Regions from separate parts of the Homo sapiens genome. Here region 1 is linked to region 2. The links come from fine-mapping of genetic effects on gene expression. A gene starts in region 2. The other region holds a variant in brackets. All regions are shown on one strand. Distances are between the middles of the regions.

The links. PIP is the estimated chance that this variant, and not a neighbour inherited with it, causes the effect. A credible set is the group of variants that fine-mapping cannot tell apart.
Region 1: its variant is the best candidate, but not a certain one, in a credible set for the expression of CD180 in whole blood (INTERVAL, PIP 0.76).

The regions. Positions count from the first base shown.
Region 1 is chr5:67,173,283-67,177,681 of GRCh38, reverse strand. No RefSeq gene overlaps it. Among named protein-coding and RNA genes, the nearest start is that of CD180, 21 kb to the left of the region's middle. The variant G/A (reference allele first, on the strand shown) is at 2,462.
Region 2 is chr5:67,194,435-67,198,809 of GRCh38, reverse strand. It overlaps CD180 (CD180 molecule), which reads left to right and starts at 2,011. Exons shown (of 3, transcript NM_005582.3): 1 at 2,011-2,258. The coding sequence starts at 2,169. RefSeq lists an enhancer at 3,038-3,187.

The DNA of each region.
Region 1 (4,399 bases), 21 kb after region 2:
AAACAAGCATGCATGAAAACAATGATACATACATTTTGCAGGAACAAAAGCAAAAAGATAAACCATTAACATAATTGCTTATGGGGTGGTGGTGGAGAATGGAAGGGGCTGTTGGGATAATTAAATGAACCTTAGAATAGGCCAAGGTTGATGTGCCAGGAACAGAAGAGTAAGATGGCCTCCATGGTCTGCACCTGAGGCTCTCTAACAGATTTATTGAAAGAAAGGAAACACATTTATTGAAAGAAAGGCATACCACAGGAAATAAAGTGGTATGGCTCAAAGGTATAATGAGACACCATGCAGCCATTATACATATTGCAGAAGTTTGCTTATAAACATTGAAATATATTTGTTTTAATATTCAAGTGACACTGGCCCAAGAGTTTCATAGACAGTTGCTTTTGGATAAACATAAATATGGACCCTTCTGCTGTAAAAGCTTGAAACATATCTGTTTTATCTGAGTTCCTTTCTCAGGAAATGACCTTCAGGCCTCTCACAAAAAGTATCAAAGAACTGAAACCAGATTGCCACACCAGATGCCCCACCCCTCATTCACTATGATTGCTTCCTTGCCCCTCCCAAGTTCCTGTTTTCTTACACATTGTTACATTTTTTTGTGTGCTATATAAACCCTTGGTTTTAGTTGGTCAGGGAGATGGATTTGAGACTGAGCTTTCTTCTGCTCTGCTGCATCACTCAATTAAAGCCTTCTTCCTTGGTGACACCTGTCATCTCAGTGGTTTGCTTTTTGTGCAGTGAGCAGCAGGACCTAGACCAAACCCCTGGTGTTTTGGTGACACAAGTGGAAGAGCAGAAGAGTGGGCTAAAGAGCATGCCCACTGTTAATTCATTATTCAGCAAAACAAAAAAATACCTATAAGTTAAAGAAACAGAGTGGCTGGTAGGATTTCAGGGATTCAAATACTTTCTTCTCATCTATATTTCCAACATGGCTTCAATGACCAGGTCTGGGCAATAAGGAGAAAAAGGAATTATTTTTTAAGGAAGACTTTTGCTTTTAAAAAGATAAAAAACAGAGATCATCGGTTGTGAGAATGTACAGGTACTGAAAAGGAGGCAGTGTTTTTCTAAGTCTTTGTGTTTTCAAATGCAAATGGTAAAGCCCAAGCTTTGAGGGAACAGAGGGAGCCATAGCTGTTCTAAGGATCCCCATTTGAATGGGGCAGTAGGACATGCATTACATGGGGTGTCCACAGAACTGCCTCCAGCCCCAACAGGAGTAGATATGTCTCCAACTCAGGAAAATTACTTCAGTACAGCACTGTTTAACACAGCATACGTATTCCAAAAGGACAGAACTTTAAGGCAAATGATTTTTATTTAGACAGGTTAAGGCTGGAGGATATGGTGATGCCAGCCTGACATATGCAGACTTTGTAGCTGCAACATGCTTGCTGCAGGCCTTGCAAACATCTTTTCATTCTTCCTTTCCCAGATGTTGACAGCCATCTCCTGGCAGCGCTTAATGAAATGGCAGATGACTATTTGTTAGAGGCTTTCAGCTTTACAAGAGCAATAGACATTTCGTCAAGCTGTGTGGGGTGATAACCTGTAACCATATGCAACAGATCTTTTTCCCATGTCTGGACATACTAAACTGGCATGTCACAGAGTGTACAGAGAACTTCACTCTTGGGACCCATCCCCTTTTTCAAGTGCTTGCCTGCCTACAAGTATTGGAATTGACAGCCCCAACATCAGCCAGTGATGTTGTAAGAGATAGTGATCTTGTCTTTTGAAATGCTGGGTCACAGAAATCAGTGAGATGTTGCTGAGTGTTTTCCTATAAGGAATAGTGCTAATGACTCCAGTGCAGGGTCTGAGGTGTCTCAACTGCCAGAGAACTTCATCATGGGTCAGGCTGATTGGCTTTCAGCATACAAAACGTAATCAAACCAAGGTTTGGCAAAGCCTTGGTCATTTCCAAATTTTCTAGATATATGAGACATGTAGGGGGTAGAGAAAGAGAGGAATAACACAAAATGATTGCTTTGAGGAATAAAAACATCCTGGCAGGAGGGAAATGAAATTTAGAGAACTGCCCTACCATAGATTTTCTTAAAGCCTGGCCTAGAATGAAGGAAGCAAATTTCTGTAGTTACTATAGCTACACGTTTTCATGTTACATTTGTGTTGTGAACCGAAAATGCTAGATGAGAAATTGTCTACTGATTAATTAGAACTGATAAAGAGGCCCTATTACAGAGAACGATTAGCTTCCTTCACTTAACGGTTTCCCACCAATCATCAAATTCATAATTTAGCACCATATGATTTTTCTACATGCAAAGAGGAAATAAGATAGCTTAGATTATTCAGAGAGGGGCCTGAATCTGAATTCAATTACATGACACCTGGTAATACTGAGAAAGGTCAAGCGCTTCAGAACCAGAAAAATTCAGATTCTAATCCAAGCTCTCTTTCCAGGGTGTAT[G/A]TTAAGCAAACGACATAGCCTGGCTGGGCCTGATTTCTCATCTATAAAATGGGAATGGCACCACCGGGTTTGAGAATTGTGTTGATGTTTAAGTCAGAGGGCAGATGAAAAGCTTCTTGCTCAGTACTAAGCACATACATGTGTGCGTGTATACACACATGCTTAGTACTGAGTAGGTATATATGTATACACACACACATACACACAGTAGGTGGACAATAAGTGTTTAGGTTGCTGTCTTCCTGATGGTTTCAATGGTTTTTGAGTTTTCTATGCCCAAGGGCTTAAAAAACACCAATAATCATCGTAGTAGACTTTAGCTGGAGACAAATTTGAGCACGGATGGTAAATATACTCTTATATTACTATTGCCCATGCCTCCCAGATAAGAATCACCTGCCCCTCATGTCCACTGATTATAAACCCAGTTTCTCAGGCCTTGTCCTAGAGATTTTTGCGTGAGTGGATCAGCGATGAGGTCTAGAAACTTGTATTTTTAACAAATATTCCAAGTAATTCTCATCTTCTAGGAAGCTTGGGGAGTAGTGATAACAATGCTTCTCAAATTTTGAAGGGCAAGCAAATTACTTGGCTATCATGGAAATGCAGAAAATCAGCAGGTCCAGGGATGGGGAAGGCAGGGGGTCAGGGGACTGAGATTCTGCATTCCTAACACACTCCCAGGTGATGCAGATGTTGCTGGTCTGAGGACCACACTTTGAGTGGAAAGGGTCCTTAGGGCTCAACTGGACCAGCAGTTATATGGGAAATGTCTTCAAGTTCTGTTCATGATGATTTCATGTTGAGGTAGAATGAGTCAAGTATCATCCTCTACCTGGGAAATTTGTTTTTGCTTTTCAACCTTGCATGCACATTAGAATCACCTGTGGAAGTTATTTTATTATTTTTTAATTATAGATGCCTAGGCCCAATCTTCAGAGATTCTAACTCCCTGGTGTGGCCAGGCAGGGCATTCATGTGGTCAACAGGCAGGCAGCATCTGAGTCATTTGAGAAGAGCTTGTTAGAATTTTCTGCGCTATCATAGGCCTTCTGAACCAGAATTAGCAAGATCCCACATGAATCATGTGCATGTTAGAGCTGAGATGTGCTGCCTCACCTGAAGTCTTCAAGCCAACCCCTTTTCTTCTTGTAAATGCTTGGCAGTTCAGTGCTCAACAGCCAAGGGAAGCTGCCATTGCCCCCTGTGGGAGGGTTAGTACTATTTTTAGAAGTGATTTCTCCCTACTTTAATTCCTATCTCTAGTTCATGAATTCTCTGGTCCTCTTGATAGTCTTGCCCCATGTCCCCACATCATGCCACCTCCAAAAGGCAGAACTTGTAATTTTTTTTTTATTATTAAAGTTTTAGGGTACATGTGCACAATGTGCAGGTTAGTTACATATGTATACATGTGCCATGCTGGTGCGCTGCACCCACTAACTCGTCATCTAGCATTAGGTATATCTCCCAATGCTATCCCTCCCCCCTCCCCCTACCCCACAACAGGCCCCAGAGTGTGATGTTCCCCTTCCTGTGTCCATGTGTTCTCATTGTTCAATTCCCACCTATCAGTGAGAATATGTGGTGTTTGGTTTTTTGTTCTTGCGATAGTTTACTGAGAATGATGATTTCCAATTTCATCCATGTCCCTACAAAGGACATGAACTCATCCTTTTTTATGGCTGCATAGTATTCCATGGTGTATATATGCCACATTTTCTTAATCCAGTCTATCATTGTTGGGCATTTGGGTTGGTTCCAAGTCTTTGCTATTGTGAATAATGCCACAATAAACATACGTGTGCATGTGTCTTTATAGCAGCATGATTTATAGTCCTTTGGGTATATACCCAGTAATGGGATGGCTGGGTCAAATGGTATTTCTAGTTCTAGATCCCTGAGGAATCGCCACACTGACTTCCACAATGGTTGAAC
Region 2 (4,375 bases):
CTCATATTCATTCATTTTATTTTACTCTTATATACTTGCAGTGAGTCTTTTGAATTCATTATGCAAACACATGTAAATCATATGCAAATGATATAGCTTAAGAAAATGACAAAATCTGATGGCCTTAACTGAGCCATCAGACCTTTCTTTAAGAAGGAAAGTAATATGCCTTTCAACATCTCTGGGGCAGGAGACAATTTCCTGAGAGTGATATTTACACGACATTGGAATTCGTTACTCAGTCTTTGCCTCACATTCTGCATATTTATGTGGGACTTTAAGATAAGAAAAGCATTTTCACATACATGATCCTATTTGATCCTCATAATTACTCTGTGATGTAGGCAGAAGAGGAATTATAATTCTTGTTTTTCAGATGGGAAAACGGACTTAGAGAAGTGAAATGACTTGCCCAAGGTCACTCAGTTGGTAAGCAAGGATCTGCGGTCTACCACTAGACTCTTCCCAGTTCTCAGCTCTTCCTAATATACACTGATGGATGTCTTATTTGAAGCAAGGTGGTCCGTCATTGGTCTGGGTTTGCTTAGACTGTGTCTTGCTGATAGCATCTTCAGAGATGATTTTGTTGATGAAGATGGCATTTTAAGGGTGACCAGGAAAAGCCCAAATATGTGTAGCAGGCCTAGCAGACTGCCAAGTACATATTTCCTCCAATCCCCTCTGCTTTTTAGCATCTTTTCTGAAATCTCCAGATGAACAACATTCTTCGCCCCATCTACTCTTCAGCTCCTTCAGGAGGCAAAGTCCTTTCTTAAACTGTGAAGAGTAGCAGCATAGTCTCTGCAGTGAGATTTTCTGGATCTGAAGCCCTAATCTACCACTCTCTAATTGTGTGGCTTGGAGAGATCATTTAATTTCTCTTAAGCATCAGTTTCTACATCTATAAAATGAGGGAAATAATAATATCTCTCTTATAGAATATATGGAAATATTCGAGGATAGGAAAATGCAGCAAAAAACTGCATTAAACCTGACCCAGTGTCTGACACATAGTAAGGACTCAATAAATGGCAGATACTATAGTCATTTGATTCATCATAGTAATACTGTAGAGGTGGTGGTGGTGGTGGTGGTGGTAGTAGTAGTAGTAGCAGTAGTTAAGTCATTGTGAACTCTGATACTAAGAACTGGGCTCTTGGAAATGGAGTGGGAGAACAGTAACACCAAATATATCCTGTATGCCAGAGGGTTGAAGAACAGACAGAACAGGTAGCTAAATGCAGCCTATTGAGGAATGTTTGAACTTTGGCTTTCTTTAATCATTGCCACATCTTGCTCCATAATAAGGGTAATTGTAATCCTGCTTCAAAGCTATTTCTAAGAAGAAATAGAGCCAAGGCTGGCATCCCTAACTCTACTCTCCTTTAGCCAGGCTGCTCTATCTATGGCAGTGTCCCCTACTTCCCCAGGCCAGGTTAGGAGGGAACAAGAGAGTCCACCCCAACTGCTTTAACAAGCCTGAACCGCCAGGTCAAGAGATGAAGTAATCTTCCCCCTATACGAAGACCAGAGGTGGGGATGGACAAGGTGGCCAAGGCAGCAGCTGAGGCTCAAGGAGCAGATACACTCTCAAGCCTGCTCCCTCCTGCTCCAGTTCCCAGCTCAGCAGGTGCCACTGAAGGGCTCAGTTCTTCAGTCTGCCCCTGCAGAGTGCTCTGCCCTTCCATGTTCTCTGACACCTCTTCTATTCACTCACCTAGGACAACTAAGAAAGTGGCCTCCTTGGTGAGTAGAGCTTCCACAGCCTCTCTCGGGGAAAAGGACCAGAAGCTGTTGGAGTTGGCCAAATGCTTGAAGTTGGCATAAAGTCAATTGGAACCATCACAATGAGAGTCTGTGTGATCAGCCCAAAAGGACTGCACAACTGATTCATGTTCAGTGCCAGGAAATGCAACGGGCCATTCTGGGGTTGGGTCCTCAGTTATTTTTGGCAAAGATGGGTGGTATGCAAAAGGGACTTCCTTTTTTTTTTTTTTTTTTTTTTCCAGCACAGAGCCACAGAATGCTGAGCAGTCAACAGCATTTCTTGTTCCAAGATCACCCTTCTGAGTACCTCTCTGGCTGCCAAATTGCCAGGGCCTTCACAGTTTGATTCCATTTCTCAGCTCCAAGCATTAGGTAAACCCACCAAGCAATCCTAGCCTGTGATGGCGTTTGACGTCAGCTGCTTCTTTTGGGTGGTGCTGTTTTCTGCCGGCTGTAAAGTCATCACCTCCTGGGATCAGATGTGCATTGAGGTGAGTCCAAACTGTTTGTCTTTATGCAGATTAAACTGTCTGAAAATTTTGAGATTTAGCACGCAGTCCAATCTGAGCCTTGGCATCCCAATATCTAGTGTCTTTAAAAAGGAAATAAGGTGTATATATAATTTTTTCATTATTGTGAGAAAGGAGCCAAAGAACTCTGCCAGGGGATCATCTGGTGGCATCTTAATAGGAAGCAAAGAGAATTTTTCTCCTCTTCAAACAATTCCACCCAAATAATCCCAAGTGGGTCATAAGATATTAATAGGGTCTGTGTGCACAAAGCAGACCCCTAAACCTGCCTCAACCTAGGGGAGCTGTTGGTTTAACATCCCCACTCTCACATGGCCTCTATCCCAATGAGTCCTTTGGTCTCCTCTCAGGGTGAGAATTAGTAAAGACAGCGCTGTGCCAGGTTTTCGAGCATTGAAAAGATCACTCTGAATGAGTCTGGCTCTCTCTTGGACTTGGACAGCCTTCCATCTGTTTTACTAACCCATAGGAGGAAAATCTGAGAATAGAGCCAAATTGCACCTTCTGTTTTGGACCATAGCAATATTTATCAACCTGTGGGAAGTTCTTGGAGGGGATAATGAGAGAAAAAGGAGAAGGGCCTCCGTCTCTTGCCATCCTCTAAAATGCTTCAAACTTCCTCCCACTTTCTCTGACCCCACAAGTGATCAATACCACGTGGCCTGTCAGACAAGGGCTGCATACAGGAGGAACCATGAGTCTTGGTGGCTTGGTGAGCTGCTGGTCTGGGTTGAGGTAAAAAGAAGAGTAAGAGCCAGGAATAGCCAGATGTGGAGTTGCCCTGGGGCAGGACTAGAAGGAGATCAGAGGATCAGGAAGAGCAGAGCAAAGCCAGCACTGGGGTAAGGCTCAGAGCTGGGTGAGCAGAGCCTTGTTGGTCTGGCATTAGGATGGAATCAGCAGCAGGCCAAGAGGAGGCATCATGCCAATGAGAAATGAAGGCTGGGAAGGTGTGTGTTGCTTTGCTTGGGCTGTCATAACAAATGCCACAGACTGGGCCAGGCGTGGTGGCTCACGCCTATAATCCCAGCACTTTGGGAGGCCAAGGTGGGTGTATGCCTTGAGACTGGGAGTTCGAGACCAGTCTGGGCAACATGGCAAAACCCCATCTGTACTAAAAATACAAATATTAGCTGGGCATGGTGGCACATGCCTGTAATCCCAACTACTCGGGAGGCTGAGGCAGGAGACTCACTCAAACCCGGGAGGCAGAGGTTGCAGTGAGCCGTGATTGTGCCACCGCACTCCAGCCTTGGCGACAGAGCAAGACTCTGTCTTAAAACAAACAAACCAAAAATACACCAAAAAACAAAAACAAACCAAAAAAACCCTGAATACCATAGACTAGGTGACTTAAACAAGAGAAATTGATTGTCTCACAGTTCTGGAGGCTGGAATTTTAAGATCAAGGTGTTGGCAGAGTTTGCTGCTTCTGCACCCTCGCTCCCTGGCATGCAGATGGCCATCTTCTCTCTGTGTCCTCTCATGGCCTTTCCTGTGTGCATGAGCACTGGTGTCTTCTTGTTTGTCCAAATGTCCTCATCTTTTAAGGACTCCAGTCAGATTGGATTAGGGCCCACCTATATGACCTCAGCTTCCCTTAATGACCTCTTTAAAGGCCCTGTCTCTAAATACAGTCACATTCTGAGGTCCTGTGGGTTAGGACTTCAACATATGAATTTGGTGGTGGGGGAGAGAAAATTCAGCCCATAACAGAAGGAGAAGAGTAAGACATTTCTATCAGCCCCAGAAGGCTGTCCCCTCACCCTTCAGGTTGGAAGGTCTGTAATTGCCTGACAAGTTCTTCCTGCCCACTGCCCAGACAAAATCAATCCACTGAGACTACGGCATTGCAGTAAAGAAAGTTTAATTGATGTGAGACTGGCCACGCCAGGTGGGAGACAGAGTTATTACTCAAATCAATCACTCCAAAGTCTTGGAGATTAGGAGTTTTCAAGGATAGTTTGGTGGGCAGGGTACACGGGAATGGCAAATGTTGACTGGTTGGGGAAGAAGTCATAAGGTTTTGGAAAATGGTCCTTAGTTCTGAGTCCACCTCTGGGTGAGGCCGCAGGATG